Regions from separate parts of the Homo sapiens genome. Here all the other regions are linked to region 1. The links come from fine-mapping of genetic effects on gene expression. A gene starts in region 1. Each other region holds a variant in brackets. All regions are shown on one strand. Distances are from middle to middle.

The links. PIP is the estimated chance that this variant, and not a neighbour inherited with it, causes the effect.
Region 2: its variant is fine-mapped to the expression of SEMA6A-AS1 in whole blood (TOPMed, PIP above 0.99). The same link has a PIP of 0.9 or more in blood mononuclear cells.
Region 3: its variant is fine-mapped to the expression of SEMA6A-AS1 in monocytes (BLUEPRINT, PIP 0.91).

Annotation. Positions count from the first base shown.
Region 1 is chr5:116,443,374-116,451,557 of GRCh38, forward strand. It overlaps SEMA6A-AS1 (SEMA6A antisense RNA 1), which reads left to right and starts at 4,125. Exons shown (of 3, transcript NR_109879.1): 1 at 4,125-4,418; 2 at 6,255-6,444. It overlaps SEMA6A (semaphorin 6A), which reads right to left. Exons shown (of 19, transcript NM_020796.5): 19 at 182-4,438. The coding sequence ends at 3,240.
Region 2 is chr5:116,294,337-116,302,520 of GRCh38, forward strand. No RefSeq gene overlaps it. Among named protein-coding and RNA genes, the nearest start is that of MIR12130, 43 kb to the left of the region's middle. The variant T/C (reference allele first, on the strand shown) is at 3,985.
Region 3 is chr5:116,344,085-116,352,268 of GRCh38, forward strand. No RefSeq gene overlaps it. Among named protein-coding and RNA genes, the nearest start is that of MIR12130, 92 kb to the left of the region's middle. The variant A/G (reference allele first, on the strand shown) is at 3,526.

The DNA of each region.
Region 1 (8,184 bases):
GGGTGGGGGTGGCTGGGTGTGGACACTGCAAACAAATACATCAAACTATACCGTTATGTATGCTTTGGAAGCCAGATACAAATGGAGGAAAGAGTAGCATCATACCCACAAAGGGTGGGGAGGAGAGCAGCTTAAAAAGGAAAAATTAAGAGATAAATAAAAGCATTCAGGACACAAAAGATAATATAGAACAGTCAGGTTTTATTACTTTTAAGTAATAAAGAGCCTTTTCCTTGCTTTTCTTTTTTCCCTTTTTTTCTTTTCTTTTTTCTTTTCTTACAACATACATTAAGTCGTGAATCAGATGTTAGGGGATGTGGAGATGGAAGGAAAATTGGTGACATCACAATATTTTTACAACTTTACAACAAATATAAATCTGAGTTTGTTGCATCTACCAGTGTCTAGCAAGGGTGGAAAGCAAAGGCACACTCGGGTTTATGGACCCTCCCCCCACACACAGTGGGGAAAAAAACTGGGGAGAAATACTTAAATGCAGAAGACCAGCTCAATACATGTGGGTATTTTAGGGTTAACACCAGAAGTGATGGGTTGTGGGGGTGTAGGAATGTGGATGTAAGTTTTGACACAGGTCTCCTTAACAGCTGAGGCAGTGATGCCTACAAACACTGGACAAGACAGCCGCTTACGTCAATGATGGGTGCTGCACTGCCAGTACTCTCGGGAGTCAAGCATGGGAAAGAAGGGGGCAGGGGGATACAGACCCATCACCTTCCTAATTTCTGCATTTCTAGAGAAAATTCAAGGAAGAAAACAATATTTCAGGTTCTAGGAAATACTTCAGGGTTTCAGGAGACAGAGTTCACAGGATGTGAACATGGATTCCATTACAAAAGCCAAAAAAAAAAAAAGTAAAAACAACAACAACCACCTACTCCTAAACAACAGCAAAACTAATGGACTTTTGGAACAAAGGGCTCTCACCCACCCTCAGCTAAGTACTCAGGTCTGAAGGCAACCACACTGATTATGGAGGCTCCACTTTTTCACTATCCAACTCAAAACTGTCATTGTCAGTCTTTTTTTGAATTCTTTTTAAAGACAAAACTAAACCCAGAAGATCGAACTGGAAATAAAAGCAGACAAAGAGACCACCAAATATACTGTTTAAAAAAACAACAACAACACTGCTCATGGTTTACAGTATGTGGACAGTTCCTTTGTTCATGATAGAGTAAACAAAAGTCCCTTTTGTGTGCTTGAGCAAATGAAAACCAAGAGGAGAAAAACACACACCACCTCCCATCCCCTAAAAACATAATTAACAAAATAAAAAATAAAATAAAAAATCCTTTGCCCCAGTCAACGTTTTTGCAGCATCCATTGTGGTCGGCCTTGTACTTGGAGTTACTCGTTAATCACAGCAGGGACCAGCCTGCCTGCATCTATTTCCATGTCATTTCTTTGTGTGCACTGCACGTGTGTGCTGTGCACATGGCTTGGAGACTCCTCCCAGGTGTCTGCCCAACCGCGCACCGCCTGCTCTCTAGCCAGTGGACGCAGCAGAAAAGAGGAATGGGACGTTAGTCCCTTTTCTGCTAGCAAATAAGGATATCACCGTATTGAAATAATCTAAGGGAAGCAGGGAGCTCTTGAGGATGAAAGGGGATTTGACACACCCACAACAACACTGGGGTCCATGCTTCGCAGCACAGCCAAAGGGTGGTTCCAGTTGGCACAACTAGAAGGCAGTGTGAATTGGAGGGTGTGGTGCTGCCCAGCGTTCTCAGGCTGTCGCATGACAACTATCACCACTGCATTCTTCCATCTGCTTGACTCCAATCTTTCAGAGGGCTGGAAGTGGGGCAGAGGGTGGGGAAGGGAGGGTTAAATAAATATCTGCACTTATTTCAAAAGGGGGAACAGTTGATCATAAAGAGTTTACAAGTGTACACAACTCAAGGTGTAAGGCACAAATTTACATGTGGAAAACAGGCTATTCACAGATGTAACCCCACGAAGAACCCGTGTGATCAAATCATTAATTTATGCAAGGTAGCAGCCAGCATATTAGTTCACACCATTTGTGGATTTTGTTTGCTGTCTCACATGCAAGGTGAAATGGGATGGCATATTGCAAGCTGGTGCCTTCACAGAAAGTCAGAACCATGGACAAAACCATGTTGGCATCAATGAGATATGATGTGCCATTCTAAAAGCTTTCTCTCCTGATTGCTTTAGAAATTAGGATCTGGAAGGACTTTAACATGAATTAGTTTTTTTGCATGTTTATAGGCCAGAGACCTGACCAGGCAATGAACTGATAGATTTAAATAAATATTCCCCTCCTAACTTTTTCCTTTAGCTACAGACCAGACAGTCCAAACACAAAGCTCAGAATTCCAGCTCCAACTTATTTACTCAGTGAATTTATTGTAAAAATAAAGAAACTCAATTATTCCAGTTAATGGATTTCACGTTAAATAGTTTAACTTTCAATGGGCTTTCTGAAGAGCTGTTCATAGGATGATATTTGGAAGAGTCCTTTCCTTAAGGAAAAAAAGGGTGAACAATAAATAAAGAGTTACTTGCGTTAACGGTCACGTTATTTCATTAAAAGAGAGGAGGAGCAGAAATCTATGACATAGTTGCCCAACATGGCATTTATCTGCTGCAACAGAAAGCTGTAACACTGGCGGGCATTTCACAGTATTTGCGCATAGTAAACTTCTGCCATTGTTAAAGTCTGAGTTAGAATTATCAATGAATTCTTTTTTTTTTGTCTTTTTAAATTTTCTTGATTTTAAAAAATGTATTTGTGTTTTGCAGGTTGGAACGCAAACCCAGTCTGGCCACGTCCCGTGAAGTTGTGGACAAAATGTTTCAGTTTCTGTTCACCTCTGTGCGTGTGTGTGTATGTGTTGTGTGCATGTGTGTGTGTGTGTGTGTGTGGGGGTGGGGGATGGGGTAGGTATGTGCTTTTGGCTCATGTTTGTGATGATAACTGAAGTCTTTTGTGGGTCCGACCTGTTGTAGGGTGTGGGGGAAAGTGAAGGAAGAGAATGAAGGTGAGTCCCCGCCGTTGCAAACCTTCACCAAACCACGCGGCCCAGTTTTCGTGAGTACCCCTGTGTCCCAGAGAGGAGGACCCAGCGTCCTCGGCTCTGCCGCAGGCCTTCTTGGTCTGGTGGGTACTCGAGGCAGTTGAGAACCTTGCTGAGCTGAGCGGGCACCTCGCCTTGCCTGCTGGTTCGACACCTGACCCCCTCCCCCTGGGATTATGTACACGCATCATTGGGCTTCATGGATGTGGAAAGGGGAGCAAAGGATGGTTTGGGGGGTACGTCCGGCTTTAGCGAGGGCGTACGCTTCAGCCCCGACCTTGTCAGTGAGTTGTAGGCGTTGAGGCTGGGCTGCCTCGAGACAGTCACGGCCTGGCCAGATGGCTGGGAGCTGTGCACCTGGATGGAGTCCACCCTCTGCGGGGCGGGCGGCGGGTTGTCTCCCCTGCCAAAGCTCTGGTTTCTGGAGAGGTGAGAGGAATTGGAGGAGTTAGTGTTGTTTCTTTTGAGAGTGGTGGCCTGGTGGCTTCTCGTGAGCGAGTTCGTGGGGTAGCTCCTCTTATAGTCAACCCCGTAGGAAGAGGAGTGGTGCATTTCCAGCCGCTTGCTTAGACCGGTCTGAGACAGGGAGGCTCCCGGGGGACCCAGGGAGGCCTCCCGCTGTGGAACTTTGGGGGGCAGGCTGTCCAGGTTCTCCACAAGGTTCACCCCATGGTTGGGACTCTTGCTGCTGAGATGTTCCTTGATGGTCTTATACTCCAGTGTGGCGGCCTGGTCCTCCAGCGCCATCTGGGCCACCTCGCTCATTTTGGGCTGGTCCACGTACTCATGCTGGTAGCCCTGCTGCGTGATGGGCAGGACCACCACGCTGGGGATGTGGCTGGGGGAGGCCCGCAGGGGCAGGTCCGTGGGAATCACAGGGGAGCCCATGGGGGGCATGTCCTTTGTGCAGGCATTGATGAGGTTCTGGTTCCTCTCCCACTCGCGGCTGCCGCGGCTGGGCTTCCGCTTCTGCTGCAGCGTTGGGGTTGACTCTGGGGTGGGGAGGGCCGTCAGGTCCAGGTGGTGCTGGTCTGCTTTAATGAGCATCTTGGCCGTGTTGCCGGGAGTGGCGAGCTTGCCGTTGTGCATGAGTGGCGTGAGGATGGCCTCCGGCTTTGGGTCTTTGGATTGAGTGTCCCCAAAGAGGCCGCTGAGCTTGGTGACGCTGCTCATGGAGCCCCGGCGCGAGTGGGTGAGCTCCTTCTCCTTGCGCTGCACCACAGCCACGTCTTTGCGCCGATGATCACAGACGCAGTAGACGGTGATGCCCGAGAAGACGGCCCCCATGACGAAAGCCAGGATGACTGCAATGGCCAAGAGGGTGACGGGAACCAGCTGGTCGTGGCCTTTGAGGTAACTTTCCCGAATCACTCCTGCAATAGACATCGCATATGGCGTTAAGAAATGAAAGCACACCCCGAGGCTTGTTTTTGCTTGGCATTCACCTTGTTAATTAATAACAGTAGTAAGTGACAACAGCACCTCTGCACAACTTGTCTTCCAAGCTCAGCTTGCCAAACATTAACCAATTAATCCTCCCCAAGCCCCTCGTGTGCAGTATGTAAATGGACTCCATTTGTAGCCTTCTTTGTTGTCTAAAAAAGTGCTGTTCAGGCCGGGCACGGTGACTCACGCCTGTAATCCCAGCACTTTGGGAGGCCGAGGCGGGTGGATCACGAGGTCAGGAGTTGAAGACCAGCCTGGCCAAGATGGTGAAACCCCCGTCTCTACTAAAAAAAAAAAAAAAAAAAAAAAAAATTAGCCAGGCGCGGTGGCGGGGGCTTGTGATCCTAGGTACTCCGGAGGCTGAGGTAGAGAATTGTTTGAACCTGGGAGGTGGAGGTTGCAGTGAAGGGAGATCAGGCCACTGTACTCCAGCCTGGGTGACAGAGCGAGACTCCGTTTCAAAAAAAGAAAGAAAGAAAAGTGCTGTTCACTCTTTCCAGTACCTGCACTTTCTACTCTGCTTCACTCCAGGGAATATGGGAGGTTTTGGCTTTCAAAAGTTATCTTTCTTTCCTTCTTTATGGCTTTTTAACCTTCCCTTCCTAGAACTGGGATAACCAAGTTATCCTGAGTCTGGAGGAAGAGGCAACAATTTTATGCATGTTAGACAAACAAATCACACACTCTGGGCTTCCAGTTGGGATCTTTTCCGACGGCCCCCTTGTGGCCACCGGAGCCTCCGTCTGGGGAAAAGTGTTTGCCTTTTAAGCAACTAGAGGAAAGAGAGTGTGTGTCATTTTTATTTACACTGAGAGAATATAGCTAAAGTTCACAGACTACAAATGTTTGTGCTGATTTTGCATCACCTCTCAAAAAAAAAAAAAAAAAAAAACAGTGCAAACTCAATTTCAGGTAACTATCCTGAATATTTGAATGAAGCTTTCTCACTGGAACTGAAAGAAGATTCAGAAATAAGACCATTTGGGGCCCTGTAGTGGGTTTGAGAAGTGTTAGGTACCATTATTGCACCTAGAGTTTGCTGTCACAGTGGGATTTTTCAGCAGAGCTAATCTCTTCAATTTAATAAAAATTATGTGACTACACCCATCCGTAATCTTACACTACATTAACCAGGATTCAGTGTTTCTGAAGGAAGGTGCTTTCGCTATTCCTGCTTAATCAGCCACCCAGCTGAGTGACTCTAATCAAATGCAAACACAGAAGCTTTTATTTTTTAATACCAAGTGAGAATACACATCACAGTTGTCAGATCTTAAGTGCTTGATGCAGTCGCTAAAAAATAAAATCTCTAATACCTCAATTCCTGCCTCTGGAGAGTGAAAGAACATGAATACATTAGAGGCACTGCATGGGCTGAGGAAATGTAAACATTGTTCCTATTATGGAAATGATAGCAAGACAGAAAAGGTACCTTCTCTGGTCTCGGGAGACGCATTTTTCATCTACTAAATCAACTCTTTCTGGAATATGTTTCATGTATTTTACTGGCAGGTATCAGTGGCACAGAATTAGAATGAAAGGAAATAAAGATCTCTACCCCTTCCCAAGCCCACAACACGCAACCTTAAACTTCTACTGAAATGTTGTCTTTGTCACAGCCGAGACCTTGAAGCTTTCTCATGGGGGTTTTTCTGCTAAAATATTTTGATTTCTGAAGTGATGGTTTTAAAACCCAGAAACCTTAGCCTGAAAAGTACATTCTCTTTTTCTTTCCTTCCTAAGGGTCCTCCTCCCTTCAATTGTGACATCACAGTTGGTTGCTGTGGAAATGATTGTCCTGTGACAAAGGATTGTGACTTAAGTAGAAGCAGCAAATATCTCTTAAGAAATAAAGATTCTGTGATCCAACAAATACCCTTGGTAATAAAAGGCAGTCAAGGCAATTCACCATAAGGAAAGAGTGTACAAGACGGTAAGATATCAAATAATTTTCAAATGTGATACTTTTCAAATATTTCCAGATTTATCTCCATCAGCTTTTAAGGGGTAGAAACTGAGAAGCAAAAAACAGCCGGAAATTTGGCTGTAACTCACACCTTTTATGTGTGAAGCTCCCCAAACAGTGGGGTGTCCTGCATTCAAATATATTTTAGTACCTATTCACCAAGGAAATGTGCTAATGAAAATTTTCTTTCTTAAATTTGCATTTCCTTATTATGCTAAAATAGCTACTGATTTTTCTTCAATTTTGATTATGTATGGGGTTCTACCGAACACCGTTTTTAACCCCCTACATATAATTGCACAAAAATGTACACCTGTGGATAAAATGGTTTTAATTTCTCTCATTGACTTGGTGATTTCAGTGGGAGTTGAACACAGGCTAGACGGCCCCAGTAATGGGGTGGGGGTGTATTAGGTGTTTTTTTCATGGCAATGAGTATTTCATGAAACCCTTCCAGGCTACCAAATTTAGGGGGACTGGATATTCCCAATAAATGTGTATTATAATAGGAAGCTATTTACAATTGACTTTGGCATTCTACAATTTAAACTGCCCTCTCAGTTTAAAAGGAACGTGGAAAGAGTAAAGCTAGAGCAATTCATTGGTTTCACTGGGAAAACTGCAAATTTTTCACATGTATCCATTGCTTCTTAGCCTTACTTTTAGCTCCCAAATATCATTCTTCTTTCATGTCTGAAGGTCCTTGGCTATTTTAGACTCATGAAAGCTACTTATTCTTTCACTGGGAAGAACTCTTTTTTAGTGGATGATATTTGAGTTCAGGTTTTTGGTTGTTAACAAGTTAAGTAGGATCTGACCTTTCAGGAAAATGGTATCTCAGACAGATTTTTTCCCCCGTCTCATTTTGTTATATAAAGAGTGGCCTTAAAAACATTTTTGCATGTCTTCATCTATCCATGGGGAGGCAGAGGGCTTTCCTCATCTGCTTGTGTAAATTCAGAAACGTCCAAAGATGGAAACAGATCAGAGAGTAAGTTGAAAGTGCAGTTGAAGAAGATAAGGTAAACGTTATTTTTGGAAATGCCTTTCAAACTTAAAGCTTTCTGCTTATATCATGAAAAAGGCCAAAGAAGCATTCACAGAAATGATCAAGTCAACTTTGTGGAATAGCCATTGTGAAGGCTTGGAAACAGCAGACTTGTCAGTAGTGGTGATAAAAGCAGCTAGAGAAGATCTCAGTGGGCTTGGAATTGCAGGCTCCCACTTACTGGCTGGGTGACCTTTTGGCAAGTGACTTAACATCTCTGGGCCTCAGTTTTTTTATCTGTAGCATGAGGTGAACACACCTAATCTTACTGCCTTACTGGATTGTTACAAGAATCAAAGGAAATAAAAAATAGGAAAGAGCTTAAATGCTGTAGTTTGCTGGACAAATCTAAAGCTCAAAAGAAGCCACAAAGGAGAAGTGGTGGGTTAGTGGCTCACAGAGGGCTTCCAAGTGATAGTCGCAGCTGCTCCATTGGATTCCATTTGCTATTGGTCTCCCATGGGAGAGGAGTAGACCTGTGCTTCCAGGTCCAAACTTCGTGCCTTCTAAATGTAGTCAAAAAGGTGATATGAGATTTCGAAGCAATATAAGGGAATGCATACTGTTTCAGGATGCCTATAGTTACTGAATTTTGAAATAATTAAAACAACAGAAGTGGAAAATGTTGGCAATTATAGTTGGATTCTCAGTGGAGTGCA
Region 2 (8,184 bases), 150 kb before region 1:
GCATTTCCAAAGAGTATTAAATGCATGTTACTTTTTTATAAAAATAAGATAAATGAGATTAATGGGGCTTGGAACTGCAATCTTGGTAAATAAAGTTACTGTATGTCTTTCACGAGTGTGTGACATGAGGATTGAATAGACAGAATTGCTTGTTAGAAAGAGGAACTAATTTTTGTATCTATTACAAATTATATTTGTAATTCTTCCCTAATTATAAATTATCATGATTATTTTTATTTGGGAAATACCAAAAAATCATAAATAACTAATCTAAACTTACAGAATCCTATCATCCAAAAATGGCCATTAATGACAGTTTGATAGATTTATTGCAGTTTTTTTGTATCCATTTATCTTTCTTGTTCATTTTTTCTTCTTTCCTAACAAATTGAAGTAATGCCATAAATTCTGTTTCATACTTTGCTTTATGTACCCTTACAGCATGAACATTTTTCATATCTTTATTGCCCAAACATAATTTTAATGTATATTAAATAGTTCATCATTTGAATGATCTATACTTTATATACTTTATATTTCTCAAAATAATTAAATTGTCCAAATTTTGGCACATTTAGATTATTCAAATTTTTGAACGTAGGGAACTCACTGATAAATATAATTATACATAAACCCTAGACCACATCTCTCGTGATATTATTAGTATAGATTCCTAGAAGTAGAGTTGCTATGTCAAAAGTATGAAGATTTATTTTCTATTTTCATCTTTAATCGGATTTTCATTATAAAAAAACAAGGCCAGGTGTGGTGGCTTATGCCTGTAATCCCAACACTTTGGGAGGCTGAGGCAGGAGGATCACCTGAACCCAGGAGTTTGAGAACAGCCCACGCGACATGGCAAAGCCTTATTTCTATAAAAAAATACAAAAATTATCCAGGCTTGGTGGTGCATGCCTATAGTCTCAGCTACTCAGGAGGCTGAGGTGGGAGGATCACCTGAGCCCAGGAGGTTGAGGCTGCGAGTCATTCTATCATCCCACTGCACTTCAGCCTAGGTGACAGAATGAGACCTTTTCTCATACATATATATATAGCTGCCCATTAAAACAAAGTTGCACCATTTTGCCATCTCACTTCCTGGAAGTACCTACCTAATACTGCAGACATTTGGTGGGTGCAGTAGCTCATGTCTGTAATCCTAGCACTTTGGGAGGCTGAGGTGGGCAGATTGCTGGAGCCCGGGAGATTGAGACCACCATGGTCAACATAGTGAGTCCTGTCTCTACAAAAAAAAAAAAAAAAAAAAAAAAAAATAATAATAATAATAAATTAGCCAGGTGTGGTGGCACACACCTGTGGTCCCAGCTACTTGGGAGGCTGAGGTGGGAGAACTGCTTGAGCCCAGGCAGTTGAGGCTGTAGTGAGCTGTGATCATGCCACTGCCCTTTAGCATGGGCAACAGAGCAAAACCCCATCTCAACACACAAAAAACCAGACATCTTATAATACAAATATACACACCTCTTGTGTATTTTCAAAAATACATTTATATTTATTTCAAGGCCTTTGATATATATTGCTAAATTGTTTCTCCAAAGGATTATATTAATTTGTACTCCCACAAACAATGAATGAGAACTCACTTGCCTCAAGCCACCTTCAGCAGCCCCTTCTTCCTTCTATACATTTCACCCTCAACATTTTTTATAACCTGAGGTCAGTGTTTGTTTAGGAAGAGTGATGGGACATATTGAGATATGTCACTTTGATAACTATAGAAGGATTGAAAAGGAAATCTCTTTAAAAATCAAATATGAGAGCCAATAACTCAGTATTCAAGTGTAAGGGCTTCGAAGTCAGGCATTTATTTATTCAACAAGTAATCACTGCTGAGTATGGTGAATATGGTGGCAGGAACTGTGTATGCTAGGTACCATGTTTACAGTGATAGGCAAAACTAGTTCTTGGCCTCTTGAAATGTAATGTGTTAGTGAAAAGTAAACAAATATGGAATAAATGAACAAATATGGGACAAAATATAATTGGATTCTATTCAGAGAAAATTAATGATGGAACCAAACTTGGACTGGGGCATCAAGGAAGGATTCTCTGAGGAGTGAGATTTGAGCTGAGTCCAATATGATGAGTTAAGATGGCACAATAGTAGAATAGAGTGACAGGCATTCTAGAGAGAATGGCCCATGCAAAATCTCAGAGGATGGGAAAGGCTTAGCGCATTTCAGGAACCAAAAGGTCAGTGTGGCTAGAGTGTAGTGAACAGATGGCATAGTGGAGTGCACTACAATTAGGTAGACAGGGAGCCATTCTCTTACAAGTTTTGTCGTTTTTACCACCAAAATGTATTGCAAGTGTATCTCCAGGGCACTACCCTGTCCAAGCTGCCATCAACTTTGCCCTGGACCACCTTTCTTCCATTCTAGCCCTCCTCCAGTCCAGTCGTTGTACAGAGCTAATTTTTAAAAAATAACCTATTAATTATACCATCTCCCTGCCTAAAACCCTTCAAAGGATCCTATTACACATTAAGTAAAATTTAACGATCTGGTTTCTCAGGACAGTGCAAAGGTTATATCCTTGTTCTTCTACTTTGTGTGTGTGTGTTGAGCAAGTTAATTTGTGAAAGTTCACTTTACTTATCTTTGTAATAGGAATAATAATCTAACTAACATGAGTGTTTTGAAGATTAAGTGAAATTCATGTTAAACATTTAGCATAATCCTTGAATCTCAATCATATAATAAGCATTAGCTGACATTTTTATAATCATTAAGAAAATAAGCAGACTCTCTGTTGAAATTTTTCCAGGTGAAGTTTGAATTAGAGTCAAAATTGTAGAAAGCTTGCTATGAAGCCCCTTCACTTTAAACTTATTTGGCATTCTAATAACAACTCCATTTTATAATCACAGATTCTAACACAATGCCAATTCTGCTTTTATTTTTTATTTAAAAAATGAGGTAATACATGTATTATGGGACCAGAATGAAAAAAATACTTTCTTCTGAGTACCTTTCCACGTGGCTCTTCTGGCTCTGAGAAATCTTTTTCTCTACTCAGTGAACTTTGATTTCTTCTTACCGTAAATAATGTCTTCTACACTTTATTCATTATACCAAGGATCAGCAAATGATGGACATGACCCACCACTTGTCTTTGTAAATAAAGTTTTATTGGAACACAGTTGTCTTGCTACCAAACTCACTCTTGAGACTTTCTCCCTTCCTTGCTTTGAAGAAATAATACCATGTTATAAGAGAGGCTGCGGATAGGGCTACATGACAAGGAACTGAGGGTGACCTCTAGGGGCTGAGGGAGAACAGCCAGCAAGAAATTGAGGCCCTTAGCCTTATAGCCTCTATGAAATAAATTCTGCGAACAACCTTGAATTAGCCTGGAAATGGGTTTTCTTGTCGTTTTTTTGTTTGGCTTTGTTTTGTTTTTTTCCCTGTTAAGCTTCTGGATGAGAGCACAGTCCAACTGACTCTTATTGCAGCCTTGTGAGATTTTAAACAAAGGACCCAACTAAACTATGCTTGAACTCTACCCATGGTAATTGTGAGATGATAACTCTGTTGTTTTAAACCTCTAACTTTGTAGTAATTTGTTACGCTGCAATAGATAACTAAAACAACAGCCATGCTCAATTGTTTACATATGGTCTGTAGCTGCTTTTGAACAACAGCAGGGTTGAGTAGTTGCAGCAGAGACCATATGGCCCACAAAGCCTAAAACCTGGCCCTTTATAGAAAGAAAGGATGCAGAACCCTGCTTTATACTATGCTCTCTAAACCGGAGCATCCCTAGAGAAATAAAGTAGTTGGTAGGGAACACAAAAAGTCGTAAGATGGACGTTGTATATATTTCAATAGCATCACTTCTACTTTTTGCCAGAAGTAGAAGAAATTACATTTTCTATCCTCTTTTGCAGCTACTGCAGCCGTGGAACTAAGTGTTGCTAATGAATTGTGAATGGAAGTGATCATTCATCTCCAGTTGTCTTCC[T/C]CTTTCTGTGATTGAAACCCAGATTTGGAGCTGAGTCAGCTTTGAGCAGACAAGAATGCTAATGCTTAAGAGGTAGGGAGCAACAAGATGGAAGGAACCTGGGTCCCTGAATATACTTATAGAACACAGCTGTCTCCATGCCCTTGACAGAAATAAAATATCTTGTTTGAGTTATTAAATTTGGGGTCAGTTTAGGCTATACACAGCACGTTTGCCTGTAGCCTAACTAATATGGTGGCAACATAATTTTATTATAATTGGCCAGTAATGTACAACATATTTTAAAATGGAGATTTACATTTTATGGCAAAATGCATATAAATGTTAAAGAGGAAATGGGAAACCTTAAAAAACAGAACAAAACCTTTGTGCTTGCAGCCTGCGAATTCAGGCTAAATTCTCAGTGTTACTGGGAACCTATATTCACCTCCCTCCTTCAGTGTGGTTATTTTGAGACAAATGTTTTGAGAAACCATAAGGGTATATTGTAAATTTCCCCCAAAGTCTTTCCATAATTCTTTTTCTACTGTTGAATAAGAGGACTGGGATGGTTCTGATTTATTCAGATGCATTAGTCAGAAGCTACTCAGGAATTATAATTTAAATTTCTGATCAATTTTGCTTCCCTAAAACTTTGATTTTTTTTTTGCCATCATTATGCAAATAGTCCTACTCAATAGACCAGCTTCATTTAATGCTAAAATTAGGAACACATTAATTTGAGGTATTTTATAGTAAAGCTTAATGGCATTTTTAATTTTGGAGAATTTTAAGGATTTTTAACCATTGCTCCCATCTCGCCATATGCACACTCCTGAAGTATTTTTGAAGCTCTTTTGCTTTTCTCTGAACTATAAGGTTGTACTAGCTGTTATGGAGGCCTACAATCCAAATCTAAATGATGGCAGTTTTCATAGCCTACTTTGTTTTATTTGAAATGGAAAGTTACTGATTTTTATTTCAAAAGAAGTAGTCTGCAAAGACAGGAAAGGTGAAGCCAGTCCAGTCAACAAATCTGTAAGGAAGATGGTGCTAGAGGCTTAGAGAGACTGTTTCAATCTCCAAGGCAGGAAAAATAATGAATATATAATAATCTTCTTTTAGTGAAACCAGAGTTCAGTCATTTTTAGCATCTTTTAATGAGAACCTGATTTTTTAATGATTTTTAAAGATTTTTCCTTCAAAAAATCTAGGTAAAGGAAAGCAGTTAATAGTAAATTTAATAGTTGCATTTATTTTTTTCTGACTTATGTTTGTATTTTTTTAATTGGCAAATAAAAATTAAAAACACTGTACATTCTACCCAAAACTTTAAAGGAAAGTCAATAATAAAGTTTTTTAAATCTATGATAAATATAGACTTGCTGTAAGGCAAGGAGTGCAGTGATTTCTCAAGGCCTTTCCTCATCTCTCCTTCTGAGATTTCTAAGTTTCCTTTGTGCACTATTTTTAGTCCACATTTCAAATTATTCTGCAGTTTCAACCAGACTACATAAGGGGACAAAGGAAAAAGCTGCTGTCCCCTGGATAAGGCTGCTTTAACACATCAACCTTGGAAGCTCCAGCATTCCTCTCCATCCCAAGAATGTGTTTATGCTTTGACAGAGGAGCAGAGTAATTTCCAGCTGATCAGAGAAAAGGTGACTTGTGTATTCCAGACCATGTGTTCTACTTTGCAGTCCAGCTTCTTACTCTCTTTCATGCTGCTGCAAGTAGTTCTACGAACATTGGGGTGCTTTAGAAATACTGAATGAATGAATTAATAGAGTATGTAGTTTTTTTCTGCCTTGGGCTCTCTCCATTTATTTGCACAGTACTATCTAAATTCTTAAAATAATTGTAAACTTAAAGTTGTACAAAAGTAGTTTTCAAACTGGTTTAGCCAGCTATGCTGGTATTTGGTAATTCCATTAGGGAATAGCCACATCCCTTCTAGGGAGTATCTCCTGAGGTCACTGATCCTTTTATTCATCATCCAGGAGATAAACATGAGAATAAAAGCCTTATAACCAGCCAGAGACCCAGATTTCTGCCCTCCAGAAGGCTAGAGCAAGTTCTCGCATTGCTGTGAAGAGATTTATGATAGTCATGAAGTTGACCTACACATGCTTCTGGGTACTGATGCTGCAAGACTGAAAACAGTTACATTCCTAGCAATTTCAGAGTTGTTTTATGTGATAGGGTCAAAATGAAGTGCTCCAGAGAGACATCAACAACATTCTTATACTGAAATATATGTTCAGTGTGTATAGATTTTCTGAGCTCATTACCCAGAAGATTTTAATTTCCTGCTGAAAAGAGTATCTTGATTAAAGACACACATAGACACACACACACACACACACACTCCTGTACACACTGCCTACAAACAGGCTTTCCTCACTGATGTGGGACAATTCTGACAAAGTTTTTTTAAGTCTCCCTTTACATGGCACAGATTGTTCCAACTTATCACAAATATACCAGCTGGACAAAAATCAGATAAAGTTGACATAGATAGTACAGAAAGCAGGCAAGATAAACAGAGCCACACAGAAAGCTGTTCAGTAACAGTTTAGTTTAATTTTATGCAACTAAGACTGTGCCTTTAGATGTAGAGCCCAATGTGAGGGATCAGTTTCTTATGATAGAGTAATATTTATAACATCTAACTTTTCTACCTTATGGCAGAATGCCCTGTGAATCCTTGAAACTCAAGGCCTTCTTTGTCAGAGTTTTGGTTCTTACTGCAAAGTATGTTCTTTCCTTATGTCATCCAAACAAAGTAACTAGAGTAGTAAAAAGAAAGTCAGTGAGTTTGGATGCATTGGCTTTCTGGACTTGCAAATTATCCAGTGCAGGCATTTCTCACACAGCAGGCTTGGAGGACTCTGGGGGTGGCCACCTTTGCTAGATATGCTATTAACCTCCTTCATATGGTTGGGTCAGTGATCTTGTAAAGTTCTGCTTGGCAGGCTCATAGGTGTTGATAGGTGCCCTAAACTGATGGACCAGTAGAGGGTGGCCACCATCTGTGAGGTTATTTCTTCAGGCCCTCAATAAGCACTTACCCAAATGCACTGATTTTACAGTGCTGTGGTTCTGTACTGGATTCCATGAAGCACCCTTCCCGTCTCTGATTTTCCAGGATCATTTTCCTTAAGTTAATGCCATTCCTGTAAATGCATTTCTACTCTTTGATCCCTTTTCTTTAGTTTACACTTTCAGTTAAATCTGTAAGCAAGATAATCTTTGAAAATTATTTTAATTAATGTTTATATTTAGCTCTATAGTCTGTGTAAGGAGATCCAGGGTTACAAGAGTCTGCTTGAAAAAATAGAGCCACATCAGATCAAATTTTCTTTCCATAGGATTGTATTTTTTGAAATGTTAAAAATTCTCCTATAATTAAATATTTAAACCTTATTTCATCATTTTTCTAAGCGTTTTTACTTTAGGGTTTACTAAAGGAAGCCAAATCAATTTCATAAACTTCTCTGTATAGGATTTCAAATAGAACATTTTTATGGAAATAGGGTGAATATGTTATAGAGGAAGAAATGCTTCTGCCTCTCTGCCTACTTCCCTATTGGCCCTCTCTCTCGTTCTCCCACATCCTTTAGGGAAGAATGGCTTGCCATTCATGTTTGGTCAGTTAAAGTATTGGTTGGCCATGTTTATCGATGGCCAGATCAACCATAAAAAGACCATGCCCATGGATGGTGCTCCTTTTGCATTTCTTGTTTCCACTCTATGGGATGGAATAGAGAGAGTCCAGATTTTGAGGAGAAGCTGAGATGTGTGGGGAAGAGGGGCAGGTAGGGAGGGAGTGTCTTTCTTAGGCCTTAAGAATGAACCATATGCTCTTACCCAACCTTACCAAGCTCTGAAAGATAATTGTCATTTTGGTTCCCAGTTGCTATCAGTCTTCCTATGTGTAGCTCTTCTGGAAATGTCAGCATCAGGAGTGAATGGCAGGATAAGATTTGGGCATTTGTGAAGTTCTCTAGTCAGGTTCCATTAATGCAATCACAATTCCAGCCTCTGTCCTTTATCAGTCGTCTTAGCAGATCTGTCTTATTTTTCAGTGATAAACGTAGAGAGCTATGGGCAAAAACATCAAAGGTATCATTCATATCTTTCAATTCTCAAGTAGGCCTCGAGTAAGAGAAGAAGGCTTTGAAATCAGTTACTCTGACTCCCAAAGAAGACCTGCTTGAC
Region 3 (8,184 bases), 99 kb before region 1:
GAACTTCCCTAAGCTCCACCCTCACTGGGCAGGCTGGTTGGACTTTCTCCAGGGACGCCCTCCCACCTGGCTGTGTCATTCTCTCCTCTAAAGAAATACATCTAGCTGCTGTTAGATTCAGGATAAGGACAAAGACCCATCTTAACTGCTTCCTGCTGAAAGGGGGCACTGCTGTTTTGGGGAAATGACAGAGCTCCCTCAGAGGCCTATTTAAGGGTCCCCAGCAGAAGGGCCCATTGTCAGAGGCTCTGGTTGCATGACAGTTTGGAGTTTGATGGCCTGAAGGCAAGAACAGACAAACCAGGTTATTAGAAAACATGTATCAAAATGAAACAAGGTGCGGGGAAGGACAGCTCAAAAATTCCAAGGCTTTTTACCAGTTTGCACAAGGAGAGGGAAGCCAAAATCCCGACTGGCAAAAAAACCTTACCCTTTGGCCAGCATGTTGGGCTTCTGGGTTCCCTTCCACTGGGCCCTATCCTAACCCAACCAGTTTAAGGTTTGGGAAATTAACTCTTTCCAGTTTGGAGGATGCATCTGAGGGGAGTGTCGCATAGTATGGAGACACAATTACCTATTAGTGAAGAGAAAACCAAGTAGAAGAAAGGAAAAAGAAGGCATTTTTAAAAGGCGTCCCAAGGGTTCAGGATGCATTCGAAAGGGGTACAAACTGAAGATGAATGGCTACCCATTTAGAAAGAGGGAAGCAGGCGTCCCTGGTTCCCTTCTCTTCCCAGCAGATACACAGTGGTAAGTGAGGGAGAGAGAGAGAAGAGTGTCTATTTTCCCTCTTCCATCCTTGCATCCCCAAGTTCTGGTGACCTTGGCACGTGCCACCGTGGGTGTCAAAGCAACTTGCACCCATGAAACGGGGCCCTAGAGAATAGGAATTATCCATTCTCACCTGTGTCTCTTTCCTTCCTACTGTCAGTGGCCTTCGAATTCCCTAGACCTCATTTATGCCATGAATATTAACGTGGTCTTTATCCATGAAACAGGAAGCTTAGTGTTGGCTTATTTGGCAGGAATCAGCCATGCTCACTTGCCCTGTGCCTTTTAACCTCTGTTGTTATTTGCCTCTGGATCCCTCAGATCCAATTTTGTTTCCTAGGGCCTTGACTCGAAGCTTGGAGTTGCATCTGGGAGAAAAATGTATCTCAGGGGTAGGAGGGAGGGGGGTTGCACGGACTCCTTATCATAAGCCAAATGCTAAGGTGAAACTGTGGAACTGAGTCCTCCTCCAAGGGAGAGGAAAGGATGTCTTGTGACATAACTTTCATAACTGGTAGCTATAGTTAAGCTTGCTAGGATTTGGGTGCATGGTACTTAGCTTTGGTTAGCTCCTTTGGTTTTACTTTCCCAAAAGGAAGCCTCTGAGTGACGGGCATTCTATTTATTCCAGTTGCCTGGCAGTATTTGCAGGATAATTGCTCAGAACTAGAACATTGATCTGGATTTCTACACTACCCATCCCTTTTGTTCTTTCCGAACTGCAGCCAGCGATGGCTGCAGTTCACAGGAGCAAGCAGGGTTAGTCTAAAATGTAGGCAAAAACTTAAAAACTAATAATGAGTTTAGAATTTAATGACAAATGTATGATAAGTTTTGAAACATGATTTTTCTCTCTGTAGTCCTCATGTTTGTTAAAAAACAAATCATTGTAGGACTGAGTGGTTTGCAAAATAGACTTAAGTTTTATAATTGGCCTGATTATTTGCATAAAGTGCAGCAAGAATAATTATTTCTATGTAGGCCTTTTGGATTGGCTTTGATGGAATTCTATTCCATGAGGAATCTCAGATAAAATATTTTAAAGCTGAGCCCAACCATGGGTTTGTATCCACAAATACCTGTGAGCTGGGTGATCCTCTCCTCTTAAGGTTGCAAGATAAACTTGGAGCTCCTGACCTGCTAGAAAGTGACATTCTTTACTAACCACAGGTCAGGAACCCTGTACATGGACTGTGTAGATGAGGGTAGGAGGACAGTTCCTCCAGTGGGCTTTTATTGGCTCTGCAGGTCAAAATTGACTCCTTAAAGGGAAGCATATCCTTCCAGTCAAAGCCTTGGTAAAACAACCGTTTTCTCCAGTTGTGTTCTGTTGCAAGAGAAAAATGGATTCTTACTGCACTGATGCAACTATTTATATTGCCATAAGAAAACTCACAGATAGTTTCCAAATTCTAGGGGAGCCAGGCAGAGAGAAACAAACATGCTCCAAATTTTGATCACACGAGTGTACACCTTACTTAATTATTAAAGGCCATAAATAGTTCAAAATAAGTTTCCTTGACTCTGAAAAACAAAACATGGATCAGCAGTATTCCAAGCAAAAGTCAAAAATGTTGCTTCAGCTTTCTGAGTTCAGTTCATTTGTGAACTCTTGTTTTGCTTGATATTCATGAGCATTTCAGCTCTTCATGAGACCTGTACATTTTCCTTTATTCCAATATCACAATCTCCAAAGTTTTCAGAAGCCTGTATTTGGGAGCACCTGTTAAAGTTCTATAGCTTACTATAAGCCATCTTTTGAAAAGGATTAAAACAAAACAACAATTGTCTGAATAGCAAAATGTCCAGGGTAGTCATAGTTAAAAACACGATTGACAAATACGTTTGGTTATCTCTGTAGCTTACAATAACATAACAACCCTAATTATGATTGTTAGCATATACTCAGACATTAAAATTCTAGAAATCCCATACAATTTTGGAACATATGTTTGCATTATTCACCAATATATAACCTAAAGAAGATTGAACATCATTTTGGAAATTTCATATACCTAAATATGTCAAATAATCCTGTTTACCTCTCTTTTCTGGACATTCCAGGGGTTCTCTGGACTATCTGAAAAGCCAGATGTCAGGGAAGGTAATTTTCAAACTGAAGTTTGATTTGGGGAAGGCTGTAAAATATGTTTAAAGCACTTGATGTTGTGAAATAGTATTCCAGATTACCATAAGTTATTTATTTTGCTAAAATGATGATGACTCGGAAATTTTAAAGAAGCAAAAACTTTTTATAACTCTTTTGAATTTAGTCAATATGTTCACATAGAGATCCTCTTCTGCAAGATTAATTTCCACAATTCCTCCACCACTTTTTGAACTTTCAGCTTTTTCCTAATTTAACTCAAAACAATCCTTTAACCCTAGGCAAAAGTTTACATTTCCATGCCTTCTTAAAACCTTTTACTAAAAAACACGTTTTACTGTTCTTGCACACCTTGCACATAAATCTATTTTCAGTAGTCTCAATTACATGTTATAGTGATAACTCCTATCAATTTTTAACTTTAAGATAAAATTCGGTAAGTTGCTTTAATTGTGTGCTAAGTGCATCCAAGGTTTGCCTTCTTAGTTAAGGGCATGTTTAGTTCCATATGTCCCCAGGCCTAAACAATTGTAAAGCAGACAAGACAGACAGTTCTCAAAACCCAAAAAGCAGTTTGTAACCTTAAAATATTCAGCAAACCTTGCATCTGACCTACATAGTTTAGTTTATCTATTTACATTTTAATG[A/G]CAACTACATTTTACCAATCGTCTTTAAGGCTGCTTTTATTTCTCAAAGATTAAAGTCACATGAACTGAAAGATTCCACAGCTCTTAACTTCCCTTTAAAAAATGTTAGATCCAAGCACTTGTCTTTCTTTAGGCCAAATTAATTAGAGCTGTTTTTATAGACATCACACACAGTACATACACAGAAAGGCAGAAGAAAACCCAGTCACTGGGTGAGGTCCCCTAGGAGACAGAGCTAGGAAAACATGCAGATATGAACCACAGGGGACTCATCCTCTAAGGCAGTATTGCTAAACAAAGCTTTGCCAAGGGGTTACTGGCCATGCCCCAAGGATGTAAAGCAAGATGGAGTCTTGCAGGACAAGCGATACAGACATGCAAAGCACACCAGAGTGGCCACAGTCCAAGACTAGCTCCACAAATCCTTTTTCATAATTAAAGCTTTATGAAAAATATGAACAGTGATAGTTGGGGGACCTGGTCTAGTAAACGGGGGAAAAAAAACTTTAAAAGTTAACTGCTGACAGGGTGGAGAAGAGGAAAGAAAAAAAAATTTTTTTAATTCCTGGGGAAGAACCTCTTATTCTTATGCAACTGGTTCCTCCACCAGGGAGAAAAGATGAAGCTAAATTACTGTCCAACAGAGTTGAAACACCTTGGCTGGTGAAGGGGAAGGCTGCCTCAGCCTGGCTGGGAACCAGCCTGCAGGCTGTGCAGAACCCTTGGGCCATGCATCCCAGCCCCAGCAGGGAGTGGGGAGTGGTGGGGAGCTGCTACTTACTGGTCCCTCCTGAAAGAGGAAGGAAAAGGCCATGAAAAATCCTGGGAGTGACAGGGTGGGTGGGGACATGGTTTCCCCCACCTCAGAAGTCTGAGTATGAAAAGGCTTAGAAGCAACAGTGAGAGGTTTTGAGTCCCCATTTTACTCACCACTTCTCGAGCCCCACATTGGGTGCCAAAACTGTTGCAGGGCTTTTCCTTAGTTCACCTAAAGAGGGGGTCCTGTTGCATCCCACGACCATGAACATTTAGGCTCACAGATGGTTTGAAGGGTGTGCGAAGTAGGGTTTTATTGGGTGAAAAGGAAGAAAAGGGGAAAACAGGGACTAGGCCAGAGTCCCTGCTAGGGTGCTTCCCGCCCTTATCCCAGGTTCCTCACAGGCTCCTTCCTGCTGCAAATGTCGTGAACTTCCCGAGGCTCCACCTCAGTGGGCAGCCTGGTTGGGGTTTCTCCAGGGACCCCCTCCCACCTGGCTGTCTCAAAATGAAGGAAGGAGAGAATGGAAGAAGGGAAGGAAATAAGGAAGGCAGGAAAAGGTAGGAAAGAAAAAAGAAAGGAAGACAGTATTGTCTTAAAAATTGTGTTGTGGTTTCTAGACTAAAGTTCTTTGACCATACCACAGCTTTTAAATGGACCATGCAAGTCACTTTTAATAGTGTAACAAGCTTAGAAGCTCACACACTCTAAGTAGAAGATTATGTAGGCCTGGAAAAAATGGTAGGTTACTGCCAGTCATGCAGTGTCTTTATTAGAAAATTCATTGATTAGAAAGGAGAGAAGAAGTAAGCAGATTCTGGAGCATAAAAAGGGGAAAGAATAGCAGCTCTGAAATTAGTATCTTAGTCACTCAGGTAAGCACATCCTAATCAGAACATGTGGTTTAGGAGAGATTCTGAGTAATCCTGTATCCTGAAGAATGCTTTCTGTTCTGAAAGGAAGCGTAACCAAAAAGCTTGTCTCCTTGGGACAAACTGATGAAGAGGAAAAAGCAGGGTCAAAGCCAAGGCTTAACAGAGGAAATGCAGCAATTGGGAATCAGACAGCTCATTAGACACTAACAGCTCAATAAGCACCATTTGAAAACAAATGCAAAAAAATGAGAATCCTATTTTTCAATGCTCAAGTATCAGAAAAGGAAAATATTGACAAAACTCGGTGCTAAAAATGATGTCAATAGATAGGCACTTCTATAAACTAATGGAGGGGTTGTGAATTGGTAAACTTTTTTTGGAGGACAGATTAGCAATTGTACCACAATCTATAATTTTAAATGCATATAATGGCAGTTCTCTTTGTAAGAATTTTCTCAGAGGAAATAAATAGGCAAGTACATAAAGATGTATATCAAGAATTTTTAAAAGTTATTTTATATATAATAAAACTGACTAATTTAATTATCCATCAGTAGAGGGCTTAGTTTAATAAATTAAATATATCCAGATAGTGGTATGCTGTCTGACGTAGTTCTTATAAGCATAGATTTTGGAGTCAGTCTGAGTTTAAATCTAGTCCTACCTCTTACTACTTGTATGATTTTGATCACATTATTTATCTTTGCTTAAATTTCCTAGTCTATAAAACACTTTATAAAATCTATAAAGTAGCTTCATAATCTATAAAATCTACTTCACAGAGTTATTACAAAGATTAGATGAGCTAATACACTGAAAATTCATGTACATAGTAAGTACTCAATATGTGTTAGATATGAATACAGTTGAACAACATGGGGGTTGGGGAGCTGACCCCAGTGCAGTCAAAAATCCTTGTATAAGTGTAGACTCTCCCAAAACTTAACTTCCAGTAGCCTACTGTTGACTAGAAGCCTTAACAATAACATAAACATTCGATTAATGCATACTTTGTAAGCTATTGGTATTATATACTGTATTCTTAGAATAAAGTATGCTAGAGAAAAGAAAATGTTATTAGGAAAATCATAAGAAAGAGAAAATGTATTTACTGTTCATTGAGTGGAAGGGATTGTCATAAAAGTCTTCATACTCTTCATCTTCACATCAAGTAGGCTAAGGAGGAGGAAGAGGAGGAGGGATTGGTCTTGCAGTCTCAGGAGTGGCAGATGTGGAAGGTGGAAGGGGAGGCAGGGGAGGCGGGCACACTTGGCATAACTTTACGAAAACACATCTGACTTTTTTTCCTCTAAAAAATGTTTCTATATAGTACCAATCCTTCTACCACTGTTTGCTTTAGTTTCATATCATAAAAGAGTCCATGTCATTAATGTCAAAAGCAGTCCTGAATAATCAGAACCATTCTGCATGATTATCTAACATCAATTTGTTATCGGGCATTGCATCTTCTATGTCTTCTTCCTCATGATTTGTCATTGATTTGGAAACACTCCTGTCCATCAAGTTGTCTTCTGTTAATTCGTCTGGTGTGGTATCTAGTGGCTCTTAAATTTCTCCAAGATTCTTATCTTGAAATCCTTCACCTCCCACATTTTTTTGTTGCCATATGCATAGTCTCTTTTATAATTTCCTTGACTGGCTCTGTTGTAAATTATGTGAAGTCATGTACAATATCTAGACAGTTTTCTCCAGCAGGAGTTTTTTATTTCTGCTCAATGGTATTCATGGCTTTTTCTAAAATGATGGCATCTTCAATTGAATTATGCCATTGAAGATAATTCCTTTAAATTTTCATGATGTTGTTTCTATCAGGGTTCTCTTTCATAGTGTTGATAATCTTTTTCATAGAGTACTGTGTTTAATGAGCCTTAAAGGTCCTTATGACCTTCTGATCTTGAGACTGCATTAGAGATGTCGTGTTTGGGGGTAGGTAGACCACTTTGATGCCTTAAGTGTTGACCTCATGGTGTTCTGGGTGGGCAGGGGCATGTGTAATAAAAGGCAGTCTCTTACTGGGCAAGGTACTGCGTGACTTCAGAGACAAAGCACCAATGGGACCAGTTCAGAAAAAAATAGTTCTTGTTGTCCAGGCCTTCTTATTGTACAGCCTTAAAACTGGAAGCCTGTGTTTATCTTTTCCATCAAGGCTAAGGAATTGGCAGATTTATAGGTGAGGACAATCCTGATCATAAACCTGGCTACGTTTTCACATGATAGTAGAGTTAGCCTATCCCTTCCTGCCTTAAATCCTGGTGCTCACTTCTCTTCCTTACTATAATAATAAATTTTCTTTGTGGCATTTTTTTCCAGGATAGGGCACTTTCATCTACTAAAATCATCTATTAAAAACCTTTTCGGGCAGTATCTTTTCTCCTCAGTGATTTTCTTAATGATGTGTGGGAACTCATCTGCTCCTTCTTGATCAGCAAAAGCTGCTTCTCCTGTTATCTTGACATTTTTAAATCCAAACCTTTTTCTAAAATTATTAAACCGTCCTTTGCTGACATAGAGTTCTCCAGCTTTAGATTCTTCACCGTTTGTGTAAAGTTTTCATACGATGACTTTGCTTTCTCTCAAATCATATTACAGCCTATAGGCATGTCTTTGTGTTTTCTTTCTCTTTTTTTAGGGACCCAGGCTGGAGTGCAGTGGCGTGATCATGGCTCACTGCAGCCTCAACCTCCTGAATTCAAGCAATGCTTCCACCTCAGTCTCCCAAGTAGCTGGGACTACAGGGCGTGCCTTTCTTAGAGCAGTCCTGGTGCCACTAAAAGCTGCATTTTCAATATGAGATAAAAATGTATTTTACAAAAAGTGCAAGGTCTTCATGTCTGCTGGCATTGCTGCAACAGTGGCTTGTGTGAGAGATCACTTTTTACGGCAATACCCAATTTATTGGAGAGACAAACTGCTCAAGCAAGGATGATTAGCATTCTATGGCATTTCAAAAGGATACTTGCAATGCTTGACCTTACCACAATAGCAACAGGAGGTAGCTACAAAATT